4 linked regions of the Homo sapiens genome follow. The protein of the gene in region 1 interacts with the protein of each later gene in a pairwise test. Each region holds a gene or a part of one and is shown on either strand. Other genes may lie near its edges. The genes, in order: CTNNBL1, CATIP, CREBZF and CDCA7L.

Region 1 (7,035 bases):
TGTGTTTCCATCAACAGTGCACAGGGTTCTCTTTTCTCTACACCCTCAACAACACTTTATCTTCTGTCTTTTTCATGATAGCCATTCTGATAGGTGTGACATGATAACTCATTGTGATTTTTCTTTGCATTTCCCTGATGATTAGTGATGGTAAGCATTTTTTTCATATATCTTCTGGCCATTTGTACATCTTCTTTTGAGAAGTGTCTATTTAGGTCCTTTGCCCAGGCTCTGGGCCTTACTCAACTCTTCTGTAAAATAGAATTGGGAGTACAGTAGACATTCAGAAGTTACATATGTAATATTTTATGTTTGTACTATTTGTGAGTAACTGTAAAAAAGGCTTTGTAATCTTACGTAGATGTGAATTAAAACCAGGTGCTAAGACGCTGGCATTGGGAGTTATATCTTGACTAGTATGTGAGCCTAACCCAGTGTCCCCATCTTAAGATAGCTTTGTTGCTATTTCCGTATACATAGGAACTTTTGTGAAATGGCAAAACTGCGTATAAAAAAATTCCCACTGACTTTCATGGTATATTTATAGAATCATTAAGGATCTGAAAAATGACCACATAGAGCTTTACCCCATGTGGTGGGAGAAGTTGTATGCTGGATGCTTTTGAGTCAGAGAATTCTTGAAAGCTTTTAGGATATTTGCTGTCTATGCCTTGCAAAGTCTTTTTTTGTATTTTTTGTAGAGTCAGGGTTTTACCATGTTGCCTCAGGCTGGTCTCAAACTCCTGGGCTCAAGAGATCTGCCTGCCTTGGCCTCCCAAAGTGCTGGGATTATAGGCATGAGCCACCACGCCTGGCTTCTATGTTGTATCCAGCTCTAAAATCTTATGTTTCTTTTCTCTCAGCCCAATAGGGGCACAAAACGTCCCCGGGATGATGAAGAGGAGGAGCAGAAGATGCGTCGGAAACAAACTGGTACTCGAGAACGCGGCCGCTATCGGGAAGAAGAAATGACTGTGGTGGAGGAAGCGGATGATGACAAAAAAAGGCTGCTGCAGATTATTGACAGAGATGGGGAAGAGGAAGAGGAAGAGGTAACGTGGCAGCGCTGGGTGGGAGCTGAGATGGCTGGCCCTGTAAAACGTAATTTTGGGCCAAATACTAAGCTTGTCTGAGCTTCCCATCTTCATCTGTAAAATGGGGTTAAGAATTCATATTTCATCGCGTTAATGTGAAGGTTAAGTGGGCTAGTGCAGTTGGGAAAGCATCTTATGAGATGTAAAGAATGTGACAGAGTTTTAAAATTGTTCCATATTATGTACTGTAGGGGAGGGTCAGGGCAGGCTTCCTGGATCTTACTGAGGACACATAGAAGGCACTTGCATTATTATCTTTGAAAGAGGGGTCAAATTTCACCAAGTGGAAGGAAGGGCTTTTTGGGCAGAGAAAATGGTATTAGCAAAGCAACAAAAGTGGAGAAGTTTAATGGGTTCCACAGTATTAGGTATTTAGGTGTGACTGCAAAAGTACAGCTTAGGGAAGGAGATTCCTCGGGCCTTTCCCTTTGCTGTTCCTCAAGATGCGTTGGGGCCTTTCCACTCATTCCTGCCTCTGGACCTTTGGACTTCTGTGTCCTCTGTTGGAATGCTCGTCTCCCTTAATGCTTTGTATGACTGGTTTCTTCACATTCAGGTCTCAGTTCAGATGTTTCCTCCTCCAAGAAGTCTTTCCTATGTAGCCCTGCAAGCCATTCTCTCATTTCCTCATTACTGTATTTTGTATATTGTCTGCATAGCACGTATCATGATTTGAAATTCTAGTTGTTTATTTTGCTCATTGCTGTCCTCCTCTCAGCCTCCCATGAAAACAGAGACTGGCTCTGTTCTGTTCACAGCTCTATCTTTGGCACCCAGAGCAATACCTAGCTCTTGGTAGGCCCTTAATAAATATTTATTGAATGAATAAATGAATGAAGCTGGGAAGAGTAGAGGTAAAATATCAGTGATTAAAAACAAAATGACCTTACCTCTGTGTCTTTTTAAATCTTTAAGTGTTAACTTGTGTGTTATTTCACTCTGGCATTTTGTTCAATATGAATTATGGAAATAAGAGTCTTAAGAGCCAGCTGTTTTTTGGTTCTCTCAAAGACACGATGCTAAGTTTGGATTACAAAATGAGGTTGGCTGTGAATCTGAGAAGAAGAAAAAATGGATTCATATTCCAAAAAGGTCTTTACTGTGTTGTGACAATAGCTCTGTCTTTATTAGGATTTGTACTAGTGCTAATTTGGGGGTCTCCCGCTAAAAGATGATGGCACTTTAGAAATACGTGGTGGGAGACAGTCCTGAATTTTTTAATTTCCTCTCTGAGGGCAGCAGCCTTGCCAGGGCTTAGACAAACAGTGTGTGTAGCACATCCTCCCTCCCTTCCCTCCTCACCAGCTTCTGCTCAATCTGTTAGCCCTGCAGCAGCAGTTAATTGGCAGGTATAATTCCCATGTAGGGCAAGGCTGGTACTGGAGGATTAGGATAGTAGCTGTCATGGGTAAGTGGTTTCTAGCCTGGGAGACAGAAATGTAATGTGGGACCAACCCGTCTGTTAAGGGACAGGGAAAAAGAGATCGCTTTGTAAAAATGACACATGGAAGGCTACAAGTCCAGGAGTTATTTTCTCACTGCCACTGAAGTCCCATTTGATGAAAAACAAGTGATGTTTGCCCCTGTAAAGTCACGTGAACTTGTAAAATATTATTGTCCTTTTTGTGCTACATCATCAGCATTCATCTTTCTGAAATCTCCCTCTGGTTTCTGACGTTGAGCTATTGGAGATACTGCTGTGGCTGATGACTAAGACTGATAATTCAGTTTTCCCCCAGTGTTGGAGAGAAATTAAAGGAGGGAAGGCCAAACCCCGGAGAGGCTAGGACTTCGGAAATCCCATGAGAGCTGTGTTAACACTAATGTGGTTTTTCTCCAGAGTGGGGCAAGATGTTAGCTAAGAAAAGAAAAAGTAGCAGATATTGAGCTTACTTGAAAGTGATTTAACCCTTTCCTAGAAATGTTTTGATTATTTTAGTTAAATTCTAGTGGTATGTTGGGTACATTGTGCCTGTTGCTGATAATAACCATAACAGCTTGCATTCATGTAGTTTACAAAGTAGTTTTATGTACATCCTTTCTTTAGGTCATCTCTATGACCTTGAGAGATAACAGGTAACAATTTCATTCATCCCCTTCCTTCCCCTCCCCTCCCCTCCTCCCTTCCTCCATTCCTCAGATCTTCACTGAGTACCTGCTGTGTGCCAGACACTGGAGAGTCTACTTATGCCAGAGAACAAGTAGACATGGGCTAGCAATGGGAGTCTTTGCACTGGTTTGGGGTTGGAGAGATTATCTGGGCAGATCCTGCCAGATCCTTACGTAGATCATGTGAGGGATTTGGGATTTTATTCTAAGTGTGTAGTGGATGAGTTCAGGAAAGACTTAGGAGATAGAATTAGCTGGACTTGATGAAGCTTTGAGAAATATATTCAGCAAAGTAACATTGTCCCATGGCTAGTAAGTAGTGAAGCTAGGCTCTGAGTCTTGACTGAGCCAGGACTCTGACTTGTTTTTACTGTGTCAGGGAACCTGTCTTTAAGCTGTAGACCCTGGGGAGGAGGTAGGGGTTCAATAGAGAACCTTGGGATCTAGGAGTCATTGGTATAATCTAATAAATGTGTCATGCTGAAAATGAATTTATGGGTAGCTCCCACTTAAAACCCCATATGTGGAAATAGAAATTTAATAATAGAATAATAGCTAACATTTTTGAGTACTTATAAAATTATGGGATGATTCAGTGCTTTCCAAAAGGATCTATTTCAGGTTCTCTTAATAGCAGTTTCTTTATTGCTTTTAGGTGTGAGTTATGGTCAATGACTACAAAGCTGTGAAGCTTTGAGTTGGGATAGTATGAAGAGAAGCAGGGTGCATTGCAGCACATTAATTTAAACTGGAAGGAAACTGAAGATAAAACGTGTGAAATTTCAGTGTAGATTTTTTGGAGAAAAAATGATTTAGTTTTCAAATATTCATTTTATTTGCTTTCATAGGTATTATTCCAATGTATGAAGCCAGAAAATTCTGTACAGTCTACTAGCTTTTTTTTGCATTCTCTAGGCAAGGTTACTAAATTCTTGATGCTACTTCAGGGTTCAAAGTACCTGTCTGAATTCCTTCTCAGCATCTAGTAAGTACCAGGCAAAGTAATATATAAGAAATGCTAAGCAGTGACTATAGCTAATTAACAACCGTTCTTAGTTTACGCACTGTGGAAAAACAGGCAGTAGGTTGGATTTGGCTCATGGGCTGCAGTTTGCCAACTTCTGCTGTAGGAAAAGATTAAGGGTCACTGTCACTGACTCAGAGTTTGACCTTAAACAATTCTTTTAAACCTGTCAGTCTTATCTTACATGTATAGCAAAGGATGACAAGGTAAATGTATAATAATATTATCTAATATTGTTGCTTACTCTCTGCCATACAGTGTGCTCAAGAAATATTTGTTGAATGAGTGAGTCTTTAACAACTTTTCTTTTTTTTTTGAGACAGAGTCTCCCTCTCTCACCCAGGCCGGAGTGCAGCGGCACAGTCTCGGCTCACTGCAACCTCTGCTTCCCAGGTTCAAGTGATTCTCATGCCTCAACCTCCCGAGTAGCTGGGACTACAGGCATGTGCCTGTATTTTTAGTAGAGATGGGGTTTTGCCATGTTGGCCAGGCTGGTCTTGAACTCCTGACCTCAAGTGATCTGCCCACCTTGGACTCCTGAAGTGCTGAAGTGCCCAGTCTTTAACACCTCAAACCGAATTTTCTGTGTTACAGATAGTGGGCATTGTGTGAGACACCCAATGTGATATACCCGAAAAGAAGCATGTGATTACAGGCCCTTACTCCTCATTGTAATTAGAGAGATAAAGTGTGTACTGTGGCCGGGCACAGTGGCTCACACCTGTAATCCCAGCACTTTGGGAGGCCAAGGTGGGCAGATCACGAGGTCAGGAGATCGAGACCATCCTGGCTAACACGAAGAAACCCTGTCTCTACTAAAAATACAAAAAAATTAGCCGGGCATGGGGGCATGTGCCTGTAGTCCCAGCTACTCGGTAAGCTGAGGCAGGAGAATCGCTTGAACCTGAGAGGCAGAGATTGCAGTGAGCTGAGATCATACCACTGTACTCCAGCCTGGGCGACAGAGCAAGACTCCATCTCAAAAAACAAAACAAAACAAAAAAAGTGTACTGTACATTGAACCCAGAAAGGTCAATGGCAGAGTGAGGTGGGGTATAAGAGCCACAGGAAAGTAGTGACAATGAATGTGAAACCCCTGTGGACTGAAGTTTTTGCATTTGTCTCTTTGTACCAGGAGGAGCCATTGGATGAAAGCTCAGTGAAGAAAATGATCCTCACATTTGAAAAGAGATCATATAAAAACCAAGAATTGCGGATTAAGTTTCCAGACAATCCAGAGAAGTAAGGTTCTGTTCCACTGATACCATGTCTCCTCTGTGGCGTTTCGTTGGCTAATTTTGTTTTGATTTTGGTTTGTTTTGGCTTTTGTGATTTGGGCCAGGAATCCCAGGATGACCCCCATGTTTGGGAATTCACTAGAAGGACTCCCAGGACTCAAAGTCAGTGATACTCAGGGCTGTGGTTTATTACACAGGGCACACAACAGGATCAGCAAGAGAAAAAGACACATCAGGTGGCATCTGGAGAAATTCAGATACAGGCTTCCTATGTTTTCTCCTTCCCAGTGGGTGGGATTATACAAACATGCTTCTTTCTTCAGCAATGAAATGCATCAACATGTGTGCAGTGATGCTGTCCAGGGAAGCCCATTTCAGACTCTGAGTTCAGGGTTTTTATGGAGGACTGGTCATGTAGGCATTCTCTGCCTGTAATAACAATAACAACCAAAATTGTAGGCTCCTGGAAGGAAAGCAGCTGTTCAGTGCCCCGGGCTGACAAAGCAGCAACCTTATCACTTAGGGAACATTTCAAAAGCCAAATTCCTGGCTGCCAGCCTAGGGCCAGCCTTGTAAGCTAGCCCTTTTCAAGATCAGCCCCGCAGTTAACATATTAACTCTCCTGCATTATTCTTTTCAGTGCCCAAAGAAGACTGATCGTGCCTGCCGTTAGTGATAGCTTTACTGTGGAGATCATTTCAGAGGCTCTGAAGTTAGACAGATATTGGTGTGATACACACATCCCTTTGAATAAGTTACTTCCCCTTTCTTAGCCTTGGGTGTCTCATCTGTATAAGGAAATAATGCCTTCCTCACAGGGTTGTATGAAGATTAAAGGAGAATAATGTAAGTGTTTAGCTTAGTACCTGGCACATAGTAGGTGCCCATGAGATGATAGTTAACGTGAGTTTTACTACACTGGCACCTTGGTGCACTATGAAGTGCTATGTGAGGAATCTGGCATCTTTCAGTCAGTCTTGAATCCTAACCAAGGGGACTTTCACATTTATACGATTTTAATGTTCTAAACCTCTCTTTCTTTCCCTATCTTTGTCCCTCCCAGGACATACAATTTTAATGAATCTTAATATGCCCAAGGCCCCCAGGCAATTAACAATTGAGTAGTACAGGCTTTGCACTCAAGTTTTTAGGTTACTAGGGAGACTGACTATAAAGGCAAGGTAGAAGGAAACAGACACTTTAAAAGAGATATAATAGGAGAAGAAACAGTAAATACCAAGTTGGGGGCTATTGAGGGTGTCACAGAAAAGATAGTAGTTGAGCTGGGCCTTGAAGATTCATTTTTATTAGGCGGAAAAGAACACAGGAAGGCATGCCAGGCAATATGAGGAGCATGAACAAAGGCACAGAGGTGTCAGCGGGCACAGAGTCTTCATGGCAACCTAGAGAGGCCAGCGTGGTCAACTATGTTGTCCCTGTGCTGTGGATGAGAAGGCAGAGTGGGGAGAATGTGGTTACTGGGCCTAGGGCCACAGCCCTCTTTGATAGTAGGAGTAGCTATTAATAGATCAGGGCCCAGCTTATCCAGCATTAGAGTCCTATCAGGTTT
Region 2 (7,035 bases), on another chromosome or scaffold:
CTTGCTCTTATCACCCAGGCTGGAATGCAGTGGTGCAATCTAGCTCACTGCAACCTTCACCTTCCGGGTTCAAGCAATTCTCCTGTCTCAGCCTCCCAAGTAGCTGGGAATTACAGACATGCACCACCACACCTGGTTAATTTTTGTATCTTTAATAGAGATGGGGTTTTGCCATGTTGGCCAGGCTGGTCTTGAACTCCTGACCTCAAGTGATCTGCCCGCCTGGGCCTCCCAAAGTGCTGGGATTACAGGCATGAGCCACAACACCTGGCCCTGCTGCTTGGTTTTTTGTTTGTTTGTTTGTTTGTTTTTGAGATGGAGTCTCAAAAACAGCCTGTTGCCCAGGCTGGAGTGTAGTGGTGCGATCTCGGCTCACTGCAACCTCCGCCTCCGGGTTCAAGCAATTCTTCTGCCTCAGCCTCCCAAGTAGCTGAGACTACAGGCATGTGCCACCACACCCAGCTAATTTTTGTATTTTTAGTAGAGACGGGGTTTCACCGTGTTAGCCAGGGTGGTCTCAATCTCCTGACCTCGTGATCCGCCCACCTCGGCCTCCCACAGTGCTAGGATTACAGGCGTGAGCCACTGTGCCCGGCCCGGCTGCTTTTTTTTTAAGTCACAATCTTTAAACCTCAGTTTTCTCATTAATGGAGAAGGGTCAGGTGACCTCTGGGGGACCCAGGGAGTCCCTGATCCTCCCCCGCATGCTCTGGCCCTCAGTTCCTCATCCTCCCCATGGAACGGAAGATGAGTTTGCTGAAGCAGGATGATCAGCTGGCTGTGACCAGAAGTATCAAGGAGGGTGAGGTAAGGATGAGAGCCAGATGGGAGTTGCACTACACACTGTGAACCCAGAATATCTGAGACAGGTCCAGATCAATTTAGAGAGTTTATTTTGCCAAGGTTAAGGACGCGCACATGACACAGCCTCAGGAGGTCCTGAGGAAATGGGCCCAAAGTGGTTGGGGCACAGCTTGTTTTTTTTTTTTTTTTTTGAGACAGAGTTTCACATTTGTTGCAGAGGCTGGAGTGCAATGACGTGATCTCGGCTCACTGCAACCGCCACCTCCCGGGTTCAAGTGATTCTCCTGCCTCAGCCTCCCGAGTAGCTGGGATTATGGGCATGCACCACCACGCCCGGCTAATTCTGTATTTTTAGTAGAGAGGGAGTTTCATCCCTGTTGGCCAGGCTGGTCTCAAACTCCCGACCTCAGGTGATCCGCCCGCCTCAGCCTCCCAAAGTGCTGGGATTACAGGCGTGAGCCACCACGCCCAGCCTACAGCTTGGTTTTATACATTTTAAGGAGACACGAAACATCAATCAACACGTGTAAGATGTACACTGGTTCACCAGACGTAAAAATACAAAAAATTAGCCAGGCGTGGTGGCAGGCGCCTGTAGTCCCAGCTACTCGGGAGGGTGAGGCAGGAGAACGGCGTGAACCCGGGAAGTGGAGCTTGCACTAAGCTGAGATCACGCCACTGCACTCCAGCCTGGGCGACAGAGCAAGACTCCGTCTCAAAAAAAAAAAAAGATGTACATTGGTTCATTGGAAAAGGCAGGACAACTCGAGGCAGGGAGGGGGCTTCCAAGTCATAGGTAGATAAGAGACATGCTTTTAAGTTTCCGATTAGCCTTTCACTGAATACACAATTTACATGCTATGGGGGTTAGAAAAGTAGTCACTTATGCCTTACTCTGGCTTAGTGAAACAATAGAGCAGAGAAAGCCATCAGATATGCATTTATCTCACGTGAGCAGAGGGATGACTTTGAGTTCTGTCTGTCCTTTGTCCACAAGGAATTTCCTTGTGGGCAAATAGTGAGGGAGTTATATAGCTTTTTTTTCTCTTAGTAGCTACCTTGTTTAGGAATAAAATGGGAGGCAGCTTTGCCTGAGGCAGTTCCCAGCTTGACTTCCCTTTGGCTTAGTGATTTGGGGTCCCAAGATTTATTTTTCTTTCACAATGTCCTCTTCAGAACTCTGAGCGGGGACCAGATTAGATGAAGCCAGGAGTCCAGACTAACGATTCATTCATTAGGCTGGGCGCGGTGGCTCACGCCTGTAATCCCAGCTCTCAGAAGCAAGAGGCAGGAGGATAGCTTGAGCCTAGGAGTTCGAGACTTGCCTGGGCAATATAGCGAGACCCCGTTCTCCAGAAAAAGGAAAAAAAAAAAAGACAAGGATTCATTCATTAAAAACCATATGACCGGCTGAAGGCCAGGCGTGTGGTGACTCACGCCTGTAATTTCAGCACTTTGGGAGGCCAAGGCGGGCGGATCACTTGAGGTCAGGAGTGGAGACCAGCCTGGCCAATATGGTGAAATCCCCTCTAATAAAAATACAAAAATTAGCTGGGCGTAGTGTCGTGAGCCTGTAATCCCAGCTACTCAGGAGGCTGAGGCAGGAAAGTCGCTTGAACCTGGGAGCTGGAGGTTGCAGTGAGCTGAGATCGCACCACTGCACTCCAGTCTGGGCAACAGAGCAAGACCCTGTCTCAAAAAAAAAAAAAAAAAAGGCTCACGCCTGTAATCCCAACACTTTGGGAGGCAGAGGGGGCCTATCACCTCAGGTCAGGAGTTCAAGACTAGCCTGGCCAACATGGTGAAATCCGGTCTCTACTAAAATTACAAAATTTAGCCAGGCATGGTAGCCTGTAATCCCTGCTACTTGAAAGGCTGAGGCAGGAGATCGCTTGAACCAAGGAGGCGGAGGTTGCAGTGAGCTGAGACCACGCCATTGCACTCCAGCCTGGGTGACAAAAAGCGAAACTCTGTCTCAAAAAAAAACAAAACCGTATGCCCAACACCTGGCTTGCCCACCCTCCTGTCCCCTGCCCCTTCCTGGTTCCAGGACCCTGACCCAGATCAGTTCTGAACAGGAAGTGAAGACTGGAGTGACTTCTTTCCCCTGGAGCTCAATCAAGGGCTTCATCTCAGAGGCTGCCAACCTGGTGCTGCTCAGGGTGATGGCCTGGCGGCGGATGGTGCCCAGCAATGCCCGCTTCCTGACCTTGGACACCGAGGGCAAACTCTGCTATTTGACCTATGTAAGGGGTCCCCTTGGGCAGGGGACTTGGCTTGGGAGCGAACTAGAAAAGGCGTGAAAAGCACTGAGATGGGGAACAGCTGTGGAGTAGAAAAGGGAGGCAGGTGGGGAGAAAACAGCACAGGTGGGAATGGGGCTTTCAAGGGCAGGAAAGCATGTTTGTCTGGGAGTGTGGGGCAGATGAATTGAGAGTGACTGAGAAGTGGGAACAGTTCAGAGAAGCAACCCTTCCGCACAGAAGTCAGTCCAGGAAAAATAAATATAGTGCAGGGCTGATTTAAAAAATACATCATTTTGGGCCAGGTGTGGTGGCTCACGCCTGTAATCCCAGCACTTTGGGAGGCCAAGGCGGGCCGATCACAAGGTCAGGAGATCTAGACCATCCTGGCTAACATGGTGAAACCCCGCCTCTACTAAAAATACAAAAAAAAAAAATCAGCGGGGCGTGGTGGCAGGCGCCTGTAGTCCCAGCTACTCAGGACGCTGAGGCAGGAGAATGGCGTGAACCCGGGAGGCAGAGCTTGCAGTGAGCCGAGATCGCGCCACTGCACTCCCGCCTGGGTGACAGAGCGAGACTCTGTCTCAAAAAAAAAAAACAAAAAAAAAAAAACGTCATTTTGGCCAGGCGCAGTGATTCATGCCTGTAATCCCAGCACTTTGGGAGGCCAAGGTGGGCAGATCACTTGAAGTTAGGAGGTCAAGATCAGCCTGGCCAACATGGTGAAACCCTGTCTCTACTACAAATACAAAAATTATTAGCTGCGTGTGGTGGCAAGTGCCTGTAATCCCAGCTACTCGGGAGGCTGAGGCAGGAGAAGCATCACTTGAACCCAGGAGGCGGAGGTTGCAGTGAGCTGAGATCGCACAACTGCACTCCAGCCTGGGCAACAGAGGGAGACTCTGTCTCAAAAAAATAAATAAATAAAAATAAATCATTTTTTAACTTTAGGAAGTGTAACATGTCCAACTTTACTGAAATATTCCTTTATTATTTCTTAACCCCAAAGGGTGTTCCGTTTTTGTTTTGTTTTTTGTTTTTAACTAAAATTTCATAATCAGCATGCCTAGGACTTCCTGCAATCAGTGATTTTAAAGCCATGCCACTGAACACACAATTTCCAGTGAGACACTTTGGGGGCTGATTTGTGTTTCTTTGACCATCTTTGTAAATTACATTCCAGGCTTGTCTATCAAAACACACCAAGCAGCAATGCATTTGACATGAACAAGCACAATCCATTCCCCTCCGTGTTCTTTGAAACATGTGTTTAACATTAGCACTTTTTTCTCCATAGCTGCAGCTACAACAGGGGTTTAAGTTTTAATCACAACAGGGACAGCCTGCCAGCAACAGCACAGGTCTGAGGTGGCCACAAATCTGTCTGGTCTCACACCTCTGAGCCTCACTTTACCTCCACCCACTGGCCCTAGTAGCTCATCCTACCTCTCCGCTCCCACACCCCCCCGCATACCGCTTCTCATCCCTGTAACAGAATTTGCCAACTAGAAGCACCTGGTCAGCGAGATGACATGGGAGGGGTCAGGGCAAGGGCAACCTGGAGCTAGCTCCCTATGAGGGGTCGCCAACTCAGCTTGGAGGTTTGGAGATGCAATATTAAATGTCTTGAGGTTGTTATGAGATGGAGAAAAGGCTAAGGTAAGATGATGGGGAGCCCTTGGCGGGCATCCACCTTACCTCCCACCCCCCAATTTTGGCTGTTGCCAGCAAAACCTGGGCTTCCAGACCATCCAGGTAGACCATCAGCAGGCTGAAGTCTTCATCGTGGAGCAGACTGTCCACGCGGAGGAGGGCATCCCCATGTCCTGCCAGTACTACCTGCTCTCCGATGGGTGAGCTGCTGATGGTGGGCCCAGAGGGGTGGTGCTGAGCTTGTAGGTGCTCAAGGAGACCGGCTGCTTCTGGGGATAGCACCAGGAAGAACTGGCATTGAGATAGGAGTGTCCCTCCGCTTTATCCATATCATTCACTCTTTCTTCATTTATTTGCTCGTCCTCTTAACCCTCACAGTGCCTCCCAAACCTTCTCACTGCACACCACAGGCCTGGGGTGTAGCTAGTGCAGCCACCACTGTGTAAGGGATAATACTGAAAAACACCAAGGTCTGAATGACTGCACACTTGATGAAATCACTGTGCTGGAAGAATTGCCTGTGGCAGGCTGCCGTGCAGTCTCCAGCAAAGCACTGGCTCCAAATCATAAGAAAATTCAGGGCTGGGCGTGGTGGCTCACACCTGTAATCCCAGCACTTTGGGAGGCTGAGGCGGGCGGATCATGAGGTCAGGAAATTGAGACCATCCTGGCTGACACGGTGAAACCCCATCTCTACTAAAAATACAAAAAATTAGCCAAGTGTGGTCGTGGGCGCCTGTAGTCCCAGCTACTCTGGAGGCTGAGGCAGGAGGATGGCGTGAACCCAGGAGGCAGAGCTTGCAGTGAGCCGAGATCGCGCCACTGCACTCCAGCCTGGGTGACAGCAAGACTCCGTCTCAAAAAAAAAAAAGAAAGAAAAAGAAAATTCAGGTGGAAGAAAGAGTTTCTTTCTGTTTTTTTGTTTTGTTTTGTTTTTTTGAGACAGACTCCAGTCGAGTTTATTTCTTAAAATTTCAGAATAGATATTCACATAATCACTACACTGGGGAAAAGGTAATCAAAACATTGTTGGCTTTATCTCATAACTTAGTATGTTTTCGGTTTTGGTGCGATCATAGCCCACTGCAGCCTCCAACTCCTGGGCTCAAGCAATCCACCTGCTTCAGCCTTCCTAGTAGCTGGGACTACAGGTATGCACCACAGCTCCAGGCCAACCTTTTTATTTTGAATGCCGCATAGCAGGAGATTCCATAATTTTTCTTTTCTTTCTTTCTCCTTCCTTCCTTCCTCTTTCTCTCTTTCTCTCTCTCTGTCTCTTTCTTGACAGAGTCTCGCTCTGTCACCTAGACTGGAATGTGTGGCATAATCTTGGCTAACTGCAACCTCCGCCTCCCAGGTTCAAGTGATTCCCTTGCTTCAGCCTCCCAAGTAGCCGGGACTACAGGTGCCTGCCACCACGCCTGGCTAATTTTTGTATTTTTAGTAGAAACAGGCTTTCACCATGTTGGCCAGGCTGGTCTCAAACACCTGACCTGAAGTGATCTGCCCATCTTGGCCTCCTAAAGTGCTGGGATAACAGGCGTGAGCCACTACAAGTGTGAGCCACTGCGACAGGCCTCTTTCTCTTTTTGAGACAGTCTCGCTCTGTTACCCAGACTGGAGTACAGGGATGCAATCTTGGCTCACTACAACCTCCACCTCCCAGGTTCAAGTGATTCTCATGCCACAGCCACCAAAATAGCTGGGATTACAGGCGCCCACCACCACGTCTGGCTAGTTTTTTGTATTTTTAGTAGAGACGGCGTTTCACTATGTTGGCCAGGCTGGTCTCAAACTCCTGACCTCAAGTGATCCACCCATCTCAGCCTCCCAAAGTGCTAGGATTACAGGCGTGAGCCACCGTGCCTGGCCAAGAGGCTCCATGATTTTCGAGTGCTGTACCTCTAAAGATCCTTTTTGTTTTTTTTAAACAGGGGGCCTAATACTTGCCAAGCCCTGTGCGTTATTTGGAGATCCAGAAATGAACACCACCCAGGAACTTAATAAACAAGAGAGGGAGGCAGAAGTAAAGAGGCCCGGGACAGGTCTCTCAAGGGGCACTGTCATGTAGGAGTCTGCTTAGGCTGCCATAACAAAACACCACAGGCTGGGTGGCTTCAAGAGAAATATATTTGCTGGAAGGCAGGAAGTCCAAGATCATGGTGCCATCAGGGTTGGTTTCTGGTGAGGGCTGTCTTCCTAGCTTGCAGACAAGTGCCTTCTCAATGTGTCCTCACATGGCCTTTCTTCCGTGCATGAGTGAAGAGAAAGCTCTCTGGCATCACCCTTTTCTCATAAGGGCACTAATCCTATCTGATTCGGGCCCCACCCTTAT
Region 3 (4,356 bases), on another chromosome or scaffold:
ATCATCACAGAAAAGTACCAAACAAAATTTTAAGTGGCATCCAAGATTATTCATGAATCTCTTAATTATTACTTCCAAATAGTGACATATCTGTTAAGTCATCTTATGCTACTTAAAATTATAATTTAGAAAAGGCATCTTTGTGAGTGAAACTGGCCTTTAGCTTCTGTTTAAAGAAAAACATAAAGCTGTGCTGCCAAAGATGAAAAACTCATGTGAAATTAATAAAATACAATCTCAATTTTTCAGAAAGCAAAGATGATTTGTTCTTTCAACAGGCACATAAAATATATTATCTACCAAACTTATATAAAAAATGATCCCAGTTATGAGGCAAAAGAATCTATGTGCACAAGAGACTGAAAGGAAGCATGCCAAAATGTTTACTGTGGATATTCTATGGCTTATAGAGTTATAAGGGTGATTTTTCTTTTCTTCTTGATTCCTTTCAGGATATTCCAAGTTTTCTATAAAGAATATGCTTTACTTTTACAACTAGGGAAAGAAAGACAGAAAAATATATATAACATTTAAAGGGCAAAACAATATAGCTGTTTATTTTACAGGCTAAAATATCAAGATGAAAAGCTCTGATCCCAAATCATCCATTTTACCTATATTCTGTCACTTTTACTAAAAGCAGAGTTCTACTCATCCCAGTGAAAAAAACAATGAATTAAAAGTAATTTCTGGCGTTAACCCAAGTACCGAGTTAAGACTCCTTAAGAATATAGAATTATGTAATCAACTTAGATAATTCAAAGCCCAATGATATAACTAAGTTCTTTGACGATTGAGCACACATTGTTTCCTTACTTATCTTTAAACATTCCTAGTCCAATTACTCCCTAGCATAATACCATTTATAAATGAGGATGAGTTTACAATGGTTTCTGTAACCAAAAAGTATTTCTAATATCTGTCCTCTGCCACATATTTTTAAATTATCTTTTCCATTAGCAGAAATGGGCAACATAAGCAATAAATCATGTTAAGTCTGTTGCTACAAATTTACTTTGCCAAAATTTTTGTTCAGAGGGCAGATATCTGCATTATTTAAGGACATTTAGTCATTTGTAGCTAACACCTGAAGTAAACTACCCTCAATCAATTTTTATATTTCAGTCTAGTCACTGTAGACAAACTATTTAAATCTTTTATAATTTACTTTGTGTAGTTATTTGGCTTAAAAAAAAAAAAAGAGGGCTCACATTCTATTTAAATTAAGACAATATATTTTATAAAGCCCAAATTATAGTACACTAAGAGCCAGAGGGGTCTAGGGAATTGATCTCAGTGGGTATACAGCAAAGACAAAATTTGGAGGCAGACGCTAAAGGAAGTTGAGATAAATAAAATTCAAATCAGTGTATTAACAGAACTACACAAATGTTTACAACACAGTAACTACACTTTTCAATTAGTTCATTGTGAAAACTGAGCAAAATATTTTCAACAATTTTGGGTCAACAAAAAGTATGGAATATTTTAAGACAATAAAGAGTGACTGGTGTTGAGAGTACTGAGGCTACACAGAGGTACTGAAATTCAAATCTGAAAAATACTGTGCTGGCCACACAACACTACAAATTTCTAATGGAAGAATTCCCTTTTTGATCCGCAGCTTAGGTGGTAAGTAAATAAAAAAACAGCTCAGAAAAACAGCAAAAATATTAACATTTAGGAGTCTCAAAACTTTGTATTGGCTGTGAGTCTGGGGGAAAAAAACATAAATGTCATACTACCAATTAAACTTTCAAGAGTCATCAGATTATTTAGCTTTAAAATTTTACTAAATCAGACCTTAAACTACACATTCAAAATGCTGAACTAGATAATCACATATTAAAAAGGTAATGACTCATTATCAGTGAATTACCCAGTCTGTTCTATCAAAGTAGTAGTTAAGGTCACCAAATAATGTTGGTGCCTTTGGTTCTGGAATTATAACTAGCTGTACTGTAGGAGCATCAGCGCCTAAGTTTTAAGCCAGTGGGAATACTCTGCTGCCTGGCTTCACAGGCACTGAATACACTTAAAATGGTAAGAAACTGAATGGATTTAATAAGTTTTGAATAATACAATAACCAACTGTATATTTATTATGAAGTAAAAGCCAATCTCCTACCCAATCCCTCTTCTATCAGCTGCACATTTCCAAGTAAGTGAGATAAAATGACTCAATCTAAACCACGTGAAGGAATGTATTAACATAATCCAACAAAAATGAAATAAAACAATCCAGAGTTTTGAGTGTTTTTTCACACTTGTAATAAACTGAAAAAATATTTCAATTAAAACAACCATATGCCACAAAAAGCCACTCCCATCATCCACAATACTAAAGTCCTTATACAACACTAGATAAATTTTTATATAAAACAGTAGAAACTAGCATACCATTAATTAGAAACCTCAAAATATTCAGAAAACAGTATCAAGTACTCAAGAGAAAGCTCAAGAAGCCAAAACCTCAAGAATCCATACATCCTGGTTGTTACCCTAAATTGTAATTAACTACCCACACATTTAATCATAATCAACTTTTTCAAAGATATACAAATCAATGCATCTATTTAAAAGGACTACTCTTTATAGTTCAGAACTTTACATTAACTTTTATATTCTACTCAGCAGGGTGTCTGTCTGTACTCCAAATTAGCTCTCATGTTCCAGGAAATAAATACAAACTCATATGCCTTGTGATCACTGATGGCCTGCTTATGTAATTCTAGTCCACTAAATGTTAATTCCATAGAATATGCTCTTGATTATGTAAAAACTCTAATTTCTTGATGAAATACTGTAATTCTCCAAAGGTTACAATTTTGTAAAGATATGCAATAACTGAGTATCACTCCCATGAAAGACAAAAAAAGTATAATTTTGTTCCAAGATTAACTTAGTCTCATGTATCTCTATTAAGTCTTTCAAGGATTCCAGAGAATCTTTTCATATCTCCATTTCTGGAAAGTGAAATCAGTATAGAAGTAATTTGGGAACTTGAAAATGGCATTCATTTTTTTCAGCAGATGCCAAATTTTTGACCGACATGGTTCTCACAATTACTTTGTTACCAACAGTCCAGTCAGTTAACAGGTTGTAGGAAAAGATTCGTTTTTGCAGACACTGCTAAGCTGTTCAAAGAGAAGAGAGAGAGATTAATTTAGTGATTATAAAATGCACAAATATTTAAAATATTTTGAACACTTCTTGTTGGATTATATCAGAGGTGTGACTACATTTTAACAAAAGTGGACTTTTTAAGATAAGTCTGGTCAAAGAAGTGCAGAAACAGTAAGTCAATATGATAGAAATAGTAGGTCAAAATATGATGTGTTAGTTCAATTAATGTATGAACTCCTGCCACCATCAAAAGACAAATATTAAAAAGCTACATCTTTAGTCTAGTTCTGTATTTTACCAGAGGCACATTTAGAAGAAAAACAAAAGGGTCACCCAAATACTAAATTGTTTTCAACCATTACAGTAAATAGAGCCAAACCTAGAAATTTCAAAAACAATCCATTTTATATTCCAGAAATCTCCTTTATCCATGTGCTAATCATCCAGAACACAATTTTCTAAAAATAGTAAGACAACAGTTTCACATTAATCATAACTTTTTTAATTAACAAGTAGTGAATCGGACACTTTAAGATATTGTTTACTACATACTGAAATAAACAGATCTGTTTAAATTCAGAAACCCAAACATTTACAGTAAAATGTGCTTACACATAAATATGACCAAATTTATTTAAAGCCCCTATTAGATAGATCCTAAGTACATGCAATTACCATGTAAAAACAAGACCATGAAGTTGATGTAAAAAATGACAAAATCACTAAGTCACCAAAACTAGAAAAAAAAAAATGAAATGGAAACTGAGAAAAGACAGTTAATAAAACATAAGGAACCTAACAAAGCAGCTTTAAAAATAGGCCATACTAATCCTTCCATTTTCAAAAGTTCTTATCAAGTAATTCCAAAAACTGCCATTTATAAAATGACATTCTAAAAATCTACACTTGGAATTTCAAAGTATCTCAATTCAGAAAGCTTTGACTACTGTTTCTCCCCAGCCCACAATTTCAAATAATGCAGGAAAAGTATTGACGTAAGGAAGAAAATACTCCAACAGAATGTTATAGTTTTTAGAAAAATGAACTTACTGCTTTCCAGAACCTTTTAAGACCCACAGTCAGCATTAACAATCATTTTTCCTATTTTCATCCATTATTTTCCAATATCATGTTAGAGATGAATAAATTCTTTGAGCCCATAACTAAAAGATCAACAAACCTGGTTTTATTATGACACCATATTTTTGTCATTGGTACTGCACAAAATTA
Region 4 (7,035 bases), on another chromosome or scaffold:
AGGGGCTAAAAATGGTGCTGGGGAATCTCTTTCTGTTCCCAAACCAGAGCTGATCATGTAATAGTTGCTCTGGGTTCTGGAAAAGTAAAAGGATACACAATACCCAGAGTATATTTTCTTGACAGAAGCCAAAGCAACAGCAGCAGCTGTAGGAGCAAAGTGGTTCTGGGAGCCCAGCAACTGCTGCCAGAGCCTGGTGCCAACTCCCAGGACGCCCTCCGTGAAGCCTCACCATGGCTTTGTTCTCCTTGATGTTCATGGTCCTTTTCAGCAAAGCATCTGAACTCTCCTGGCTCTCATCCCGAGAGTCATCCTCAGACTCAGAGGTAGAATCTTCCCTTTGTATCACCTGTCTACAGTCTTTCTTTCTTTCAAGAATTGTTTTTTTCTCATTCTGTAAGCGTGCGCTAGAAAACAACTGCTCGGAAGAACTGTTTTTATCTGGTTTGTTGGCCAGCTTCTTGGTGGGGAACTGAAAGGCTACTCGAAGACCAATACTACTTCTTCTAGACCTGCTTCTTCTAGGGGTAGCCTTATCTTCTTCTTCATCTTCCTCTTCCTCGCTCACCAAAGATGCTTTGCCATCATCACTCAAATCTGACTCCACGACCTAATAAAATAAGAGCAAGAAAAAGCACAAAGACACTGTTACAGACCCACAAAAAAGACATGCATTTAAAACAACTGACAGCATTATGAGAAAAAACATGAAAAATGAAAAGCTTCCCCTTCATATTATGAGTTCCCTCTGAATTTCCTTTAAATGTGCAAGAAATTGGTTGATGAATAAAATCAGAGAGCAGGCAACCTACTACTGAACTGTGCACCATCATACCCGCGACAGAAATGGGTTCCATTCAGAGCATGAGGGCTGTAAGCAAAACACTGACAGGGTGGGTTCCTCCACCGTGGGACAACCAGGGAGCACCAGCAAGAGGAGAGACAGTCACAGAAAAGGAGAGACAGCAGCATGACAGATGTGATCTTCAGACAGGAAAGGACGCAACGGGGGAAAAATGCTGACTGGTCTCCTCTAAATAGCAGGAACCAGACTCCTGAATAACAGGGCGGGAGAGCTGACTGCACCTCAGGGCAGTGACCCAGGACAGGCAGATGACCTGCCACTGCGTCCTCAGTCAAGGGGCACCTTTCCCTTCTCTGGAACCCTCAGAGCCATGAGGTGAAACCAGGTCACAAAGCTCTACAGGTTGTAGCAAAACACCACTCAGTCAACTCAAGAAATCCTCACCCGACATTTTCAAATTCCACATGGCAGAGGTCTCCAGCATTCAAACATTGCTCTGTTTTACAAGTGAGAACACAGTAAATATGGAAGGCAGTAACAGGGATACATCACCTAGGTGACAGCTTGGATGTGACGGGACTCTTAGCAGTGGTACAGAGACAGGTTTAAGTATGTAAGATCTAGGACGTCTTCTGGGCATCCTTCCATGACCAGAAGCTAGAAAACTTTGGGAACCATTATCTGGGAATTCTGAAAATCTACCAAGAACACGGAATGGCACCGATACGGACCCAGGATCAGTTCAGGGACTCTGCTTCCTCCCCGGTGACGACCATCAACCCCAAACTCTCGTTGGACTAAAGTTAGAAATAAGACACAGGGAGAAAAAAAACGCAGATAACTGCCAACCCTGGTATATCCACACCAAGCCAAGTGAGGAGTAAGACTATATGGCACTGATTTATCTATTTTTTAATACCCTGAACTTCCCATATTAATAGCTTCAGAATTCAAAATGGTGTACTGCAAAGGAACCCAATTTCAGGGGACACTGTCAGGGAAGAACTTCAGTTTTGATCCATTTATCTACCATCCTCATCATCGACAGGCCTCTCTTTACCAGATGTGGAACAGCTCACTACAGAGGCCTGAAGGAAGGAAAGAACAAATGGTACACAGCAGCCCAGAATCAGACCCAAGAGAAGAGCACAAGTGTAGTACATGGATGTGGTTATTTCGCATCCGGCCAGCAGACCCCTGGAAACCAAGTTACAGCAATGTCCCATTATCAAGAAAGATAGGTTCGCCAGTTCCCACAGGGGTGGGCAGGAGGGTGGGCTGGGAGGCAACAATGCTTTTCTTCTCACTGGATTCTAAAATAAAATTTGCAAGGGCCTGTGCTGAACTGTAAGCTATATCATGATCTATGTAACTACATCACACAGTCCATAGACTTGGGGGCAGGTGGGAGGGAAGACTTCTGGGGTAATTCACTTTCTCTCACTAGAAATGCAAATGCTTCGAATAACCAGACATCACTTCACTAAAGAACAGAAAATAAGTACATTGCTAACTGATGATGCCCATTAGGGTTTTAGAAGCATCTTAATATCGTGCTGGCAAGAAGCTAGGGACTTGCTGGCCAGAACTGATGGAACTGCCACACAAACAGCTTCTGCAAAGAAAGCCAAAGGAGACCTGGGGCCTCCAGGCTGGCACAGCTCTATGTTGCTACTCATAGCAAAAAATCACTATCAAACGAAGCAGCCTACCATGCGGGCTTTTATGCTCTACATTCTCTCCTAGGACAAGTGAGGGACATGGCAGGCTAGGAGTCACGGCTTATTTATACCTCTACACAGTCTCTGCCAAAAGTTAGTCTTTAGCAGCTTCTGGCTGTGAAGAGGCGTAAACTCTACGTTCCATCTTCATACTGAAGAAGATAGTAGCATGTTTATTTTTTGCATAAATGTATGCTATTTTTAGCAGAAAACATTTCTGCACTTAAATCCGAAGGCTGTGCCTTAAAGTTACCTTCAGGTTCAAACACGAGTGGGCAGTAAACTAGCCTAACTGTGCAGGATAAAACAAACAAATAACTAACAAGTCTGTTCATAGGAAGTGCTGAGAGTAGACTTCCCTCCAGAATCCAGGCAGGCCTGGGTCATCTTTAACACTAAAAAGCATGACAAATCCAAATCCACAATGCATGGGGAACACCAAGTTTGTACCACAGCCAAATTTTTGCCAAATTAACTTCAAACCAAAAACTGTCACTTCACACACAGTAAGAAAGTATCTCAAGAAAGTTGTCATCTAAGATAAACTTTTAGATAAAAGAGGTTTAAGGAACTCTTGAGATAATTTTTTTTTTTTTTTTTTTTTTTTTTTTTTTTTTTTTTTTTGAGATGGAGTCTCGCTCTGTCACCCAGGCTGGAGTGCAGTGGCTCAATCTCAGCTCACTGCAACCTCTGCCTCCCGGCTTCAAGAAATCCTCCTGCCTCCGCCTCCCGAGTAGCTTGGATTACAGGTGCCCGCCACCACGCCCGGCTAATTTTTGTATTTTGAGGAGAGATGGGGTTTCACCATATCGGTGAGGCTGGTCTTGAACTCCTGACCTCAGGTCCACCCGCCTCGGCCTCCCAAAGTGCTGGGATTACAGGTATGAGCCACCGTGCCTGGCCAAGAGAGATAAATTCTTTGAGAAGGACAATAAAGGACGCCTGGGACACATCCCCAAAAACCCCCTAAGGCACGAGGAGAAGATGAATGGATTTTCTCTAAGAGAATAATGGACTGGTGGACCAGGGATTAGCCTTCCAGGAGCAATTTTTTTAGGTTATGTTAATTGCTTGTAAGATAAATATGTAAGAAAAATCTTTTCACTTGTGAAGTGACTGCTTACAAGTAAAACTCTTTCAGAAACAGGATTAAAAACGTTACCACCCACATCCCTTCCTGTTGTAATTATTACCATTACTTCTGGGTTAGTCTTTCCATTCAGATCACTCTGCGTAAATCCTGCAAAATCCTCAGTCTCTGAGTCAGTGTCCTCTATAAAAATTCTTCTTAGCTCTTCTGTGAAGTATTTGGAATGAAAGCGCACATCCTGCTAAATTAAAGACACACATACATCAGAGACGGAAAGTAGAATAGAGGTTACCAGGGAAGGGTAGAATGAGGAGCTACTGAACGGGTACAGAGCTTCTGATGGAGATGACGAAAATGGATGGACAACAATGTGAATGTACTTAATGCACTGAACTGTACACATCAAAAACAGCTGAAATGATATACTTCATGTTATGTGTATTTTACCACAAAAAAAAAAAAACACTGGCCGGGTACAGTGGCTCACCCTGTAATCCCAGCACTTTGGGAGACCGAGGCAGGCAGATCACTTGAACTCAGGAGTTCAAGACCAGCCTGAGCAACATAGTGAGACCTCATCTCTGCAAAAAATACAAAAATTAGCTGGGTCTGGTGGCATGTACCTGTAGTCCCAGCTACTTGGGAGGCTAAGGTGGGAGGATTACCCAACCCTGGGAGGTCGAGGCTGCAGTGAGCTGCACACCAATGCACTCCAGCCTGCGTTGCAGCCAAGATCACACCATTGCACTCCAGCCGGGTGACAGAGTGAGACCCTCTCTCAAAAAAACCCGCATACGTACACGTATATATTACATATATACACATTTTCTAAAGCTTACAAAATTCAGACCTACAAGACAGACAATTTTTAAAAATTGGGTGTAGTCTCAATCAGCTTCTAATGTGACTGGTAAGTGCTCATGGAATTCAGCTTCTCCTGCCAAAGCTGGCAACCAGACACGTCTGCTTTCACATAGAACCAAAACACATGGAAAGAAGATATGAGGAGAAAACCTGGCTCCCTCCCACGTGTTGGCTTCCCTTTCCAACAGCCTTTCAAAGCCGGAGTCTCCTCCAAGTGGGTGAGCATGCCTCCCATTCACCAACAGCGAGCTTCTCTGTAGGAAAAGGCTGGGGCCTCTCTCAGCCCCCACCGCCCACCACCAGAGAGCCTAGACTTGCTCCATGAGCAGACACCATGGGGGCCTGATGGAAAGCTCATTCAAGGTCACCCCCAGGAATTTCTCTCGTGCAGGAGGTGAGAGGTGAACAACCATGGCTAGGTGGCAAGTGAGCAGAAGGAAAGATGCAATGTGACTCTTTAAGAAAAGGCATTTTCTAATACTTTTTCTTTTGAAATAGTGCAAAGATGGAAACCCAACTCTCTTAATAGTATACTTGAAAGAAAGAGGAAATAACAAACTGCAGGCCAAAGGGAGACCCACGAGACCAGCCCCCTGCAAGCCCGCCACACCTCATCAAGACTAGAGTCTGTCCCCAGTTTCCTCTGACGTCTCTTCCCCCCATCTCTGATATAGCAATGACCCCTTGTAACACCACACTTGGCGGGGAATCTGTATCTACCCCACTGCGTTTCCCCGCCTTTAATTATATACTTCTTTGAGCTCATATATCTCTGGGGAAAGATAGATATAATAGACAAGTGGAAAAACTTACAGGGGCACACAGAAAGAAATGCCTACATCTAGCATTCTGTAAGCTTAAAAATGTCTCCTATGAATTATTATGGGTAATTGGAGTGAGTTTGCTCAGAGCTGAATTACTTTGTTCCTTTGTTGATAGCTGTAGTGCAGCTGCTTGAGAAAAAAAATTGCACACACAAAAGGGAAGTTTCTTTAAAGTGAAATTCAAATCGTGTTTAAGGGAGACCAGAGTTAGCATACACATACTGTGTGCAAGTTCATGCAGCTTCTCTCTATTGGTTAAAATGGATCATGAGCCTGTGGGGTCGGGGTAGAGAAGCAGCCAGGGCTTGATTATTAAGGAAGAATGGTACACAGCTGCTGCTAAGGAAACCCACCATGCACCTGAGGCCTCTCAGTGCAAGAAACATCTGGCTCACAGAGCCTTGGGCCAGCCCCTGCAGGCTAATTTAGAGTGGTATTTCTGTGTGCAAATTTCATCAACTACCTAAAGCCCCTGCCTAGGGCCTGAAGGGAACAGGGCAAGCCTTGAAGCTATGAGTTCCCATCTTCCAGTTTTTCTGGCTATTTTGATCCTGTGTGCTGGCCTCCCAGGGCAATGGGCATCTTGGGAGAGATTACCATCTTTGATGGTCAGTCCTGATAGAGAAAAACAACTTACCATTGTCCTGAACTGAGGCCTGTGCTTTAGTTTCCTTACTCCAAAGTGTGTAAGTACTGTTTTCCATGTGGGTCTGTATGATGCCAATCTCCACTCCACACTGCTCCACTGCATTCTGAGTTAGAAACCCTGGCACTGCTGATTGCTCTCTGGCACTGGTTCATTCATCTTCAAAATCAATACTGGGTGCTATGCTATAGGCCTTGGTCATCTACCATGATCAGGACCATAAGCAAATAACACATCAGAGGAGAAGCTAACATAGGTGGATAAACTTATTTTGAAGTCCATGTGACATGGAAGAAACAGACCAGAGAGCAATGGCCTGTTGAACCAGACAGCCAGACAAGCACCCCATTTCAACTGCACCCAGCAAACAACACCCCCCGTGCTCACTGTATACAGTCAGGTGGGGTGTTGGATGCTTGAAATCAGAGGAAAGGAACAATACATGAGGACGAAAAGTCAGAGCCAGGGAAGCTAGAAAGCACCATTCAAGTATGAGGTCTCCCCTTCTTAAGGAGTTTATAATCTAACAGGGAGGCAGACAGGTCCACGAATAACCCTGGTGAGGGTCAGTGCTCTAAGGGATACAAAGCAATATGGCACACGGAGGGAAAGAAAATCCAGTAAGACTTCATGGAAGAAGTAGCATAACTGGATGTGAGCCACGGTAGAGGCTAGAAAAATGGTGAGAGCACAGATAGGCAGGAACAGCATGGACCAGTGGGCAGAAAGGGCAGAACAGTGGATAATGAGAGTGTCAGTTCAGTTCCTGTGCCCTGCAGCATAGCAGGTAGGAAAGAGACCCGGCGGGGTAAGAGGCTGAGAAGTGGTGGCCCTGGATTTGGAACATCCCAGCTTGGTACTTCCCAGATGTGGGGCCTTGGGCAAGTCATTACACCTTCCTGAACGTCAGTTTCATCACTTGCAAAACTGCAGCTTCCCAGGGAGGTCTGTGGATTAAATGCAGTATCTGTATGAAAAGCAGTTGGCACACTGTCCTCCCTGGGGAGAACACACCTGACTACAAAAGGAGTCATCATAGCAGCAGAAGCAGCTGTTCTGTTTCTTAATGCCCGGTGCCTGCCAGG

Evidence for each region.
Region 2: the proteins of CTNNBL1 (region 1) and CATIP interact in binary tests that used the Homo sapiens proteins (3 or more experiments, as listed by UniProt).
Region 3: the proteins of CTNNBL1 (region 1) and CREBZF interact in binary tests that used the Homo sapiens proteins (3 or more experiments, as listed by UniProt).
Region 4: the proteins of CTNNBL1 (region 1) and CDCA7L interact in binary tests that used the Homo sapiens proteins (3 or more experiments, as listed by UniProt).

Annotation. Positions count from the first base shown.
Region 1 is NC_000020.11:37,732,016-37,739,050, forward strand, and holds part of CTNNBL1 (beta-catenin-like protein 1), read left to right. Parts: intron 1-863; coding exon 864-1,052; intron 1,053-5,362; coding exon 5,363-5,469; intron 5,470-7,035. UniProt on the Homo sapiens protein: Component of the PRP19-CDC5L complex that forms an integral part of the spliceosome and is required for activating pre-mRNA splicing.
Region 2 is NC_000002.12:218,359,853-218,366,887, forward strand, and holds part of CATIP (ciliogenesis-associated TTC17-interacting protein), read left to right. Parts: intron 1-720; coding exon 721-807; intron 808-2,882; coding exon 2,883-3,050; intron 3,051-4,775; coding exon 4,776-4,900; intron 4,901-6,812; exon of another isoform or gene 6,813-6,946; intron 6,947-7,035. UniProt on the Homo sapiens protein: Plays a role in primary ciliogenesis by modulating actin polymerization.
Region 3 is NC_000011.10:85,657,461-85,661,816, forward strand, and holds the end of CREBZF (CREB/ATF bZIP transcription factor), read right to left. Parts: 3' UTR 530-4,356; downstream 1-529.
Region 4 is NC_000007.14:21,907,898-21,914,932, forward strand, and holds part of CDCA7L (cell division cycle-associated 7-like protein), read right to left. Parts: intron 3,858-7,035; coding exon 3,720-3,857; intron 611-3,719; coding exon 233-610; intron 1-232. UniProt on the Homo sapiens protein: Plays a role in transcriptional regulation as a repressor that inhibits monoamine oxidase A (MAOA) activity and gene expression by binding to the promoter.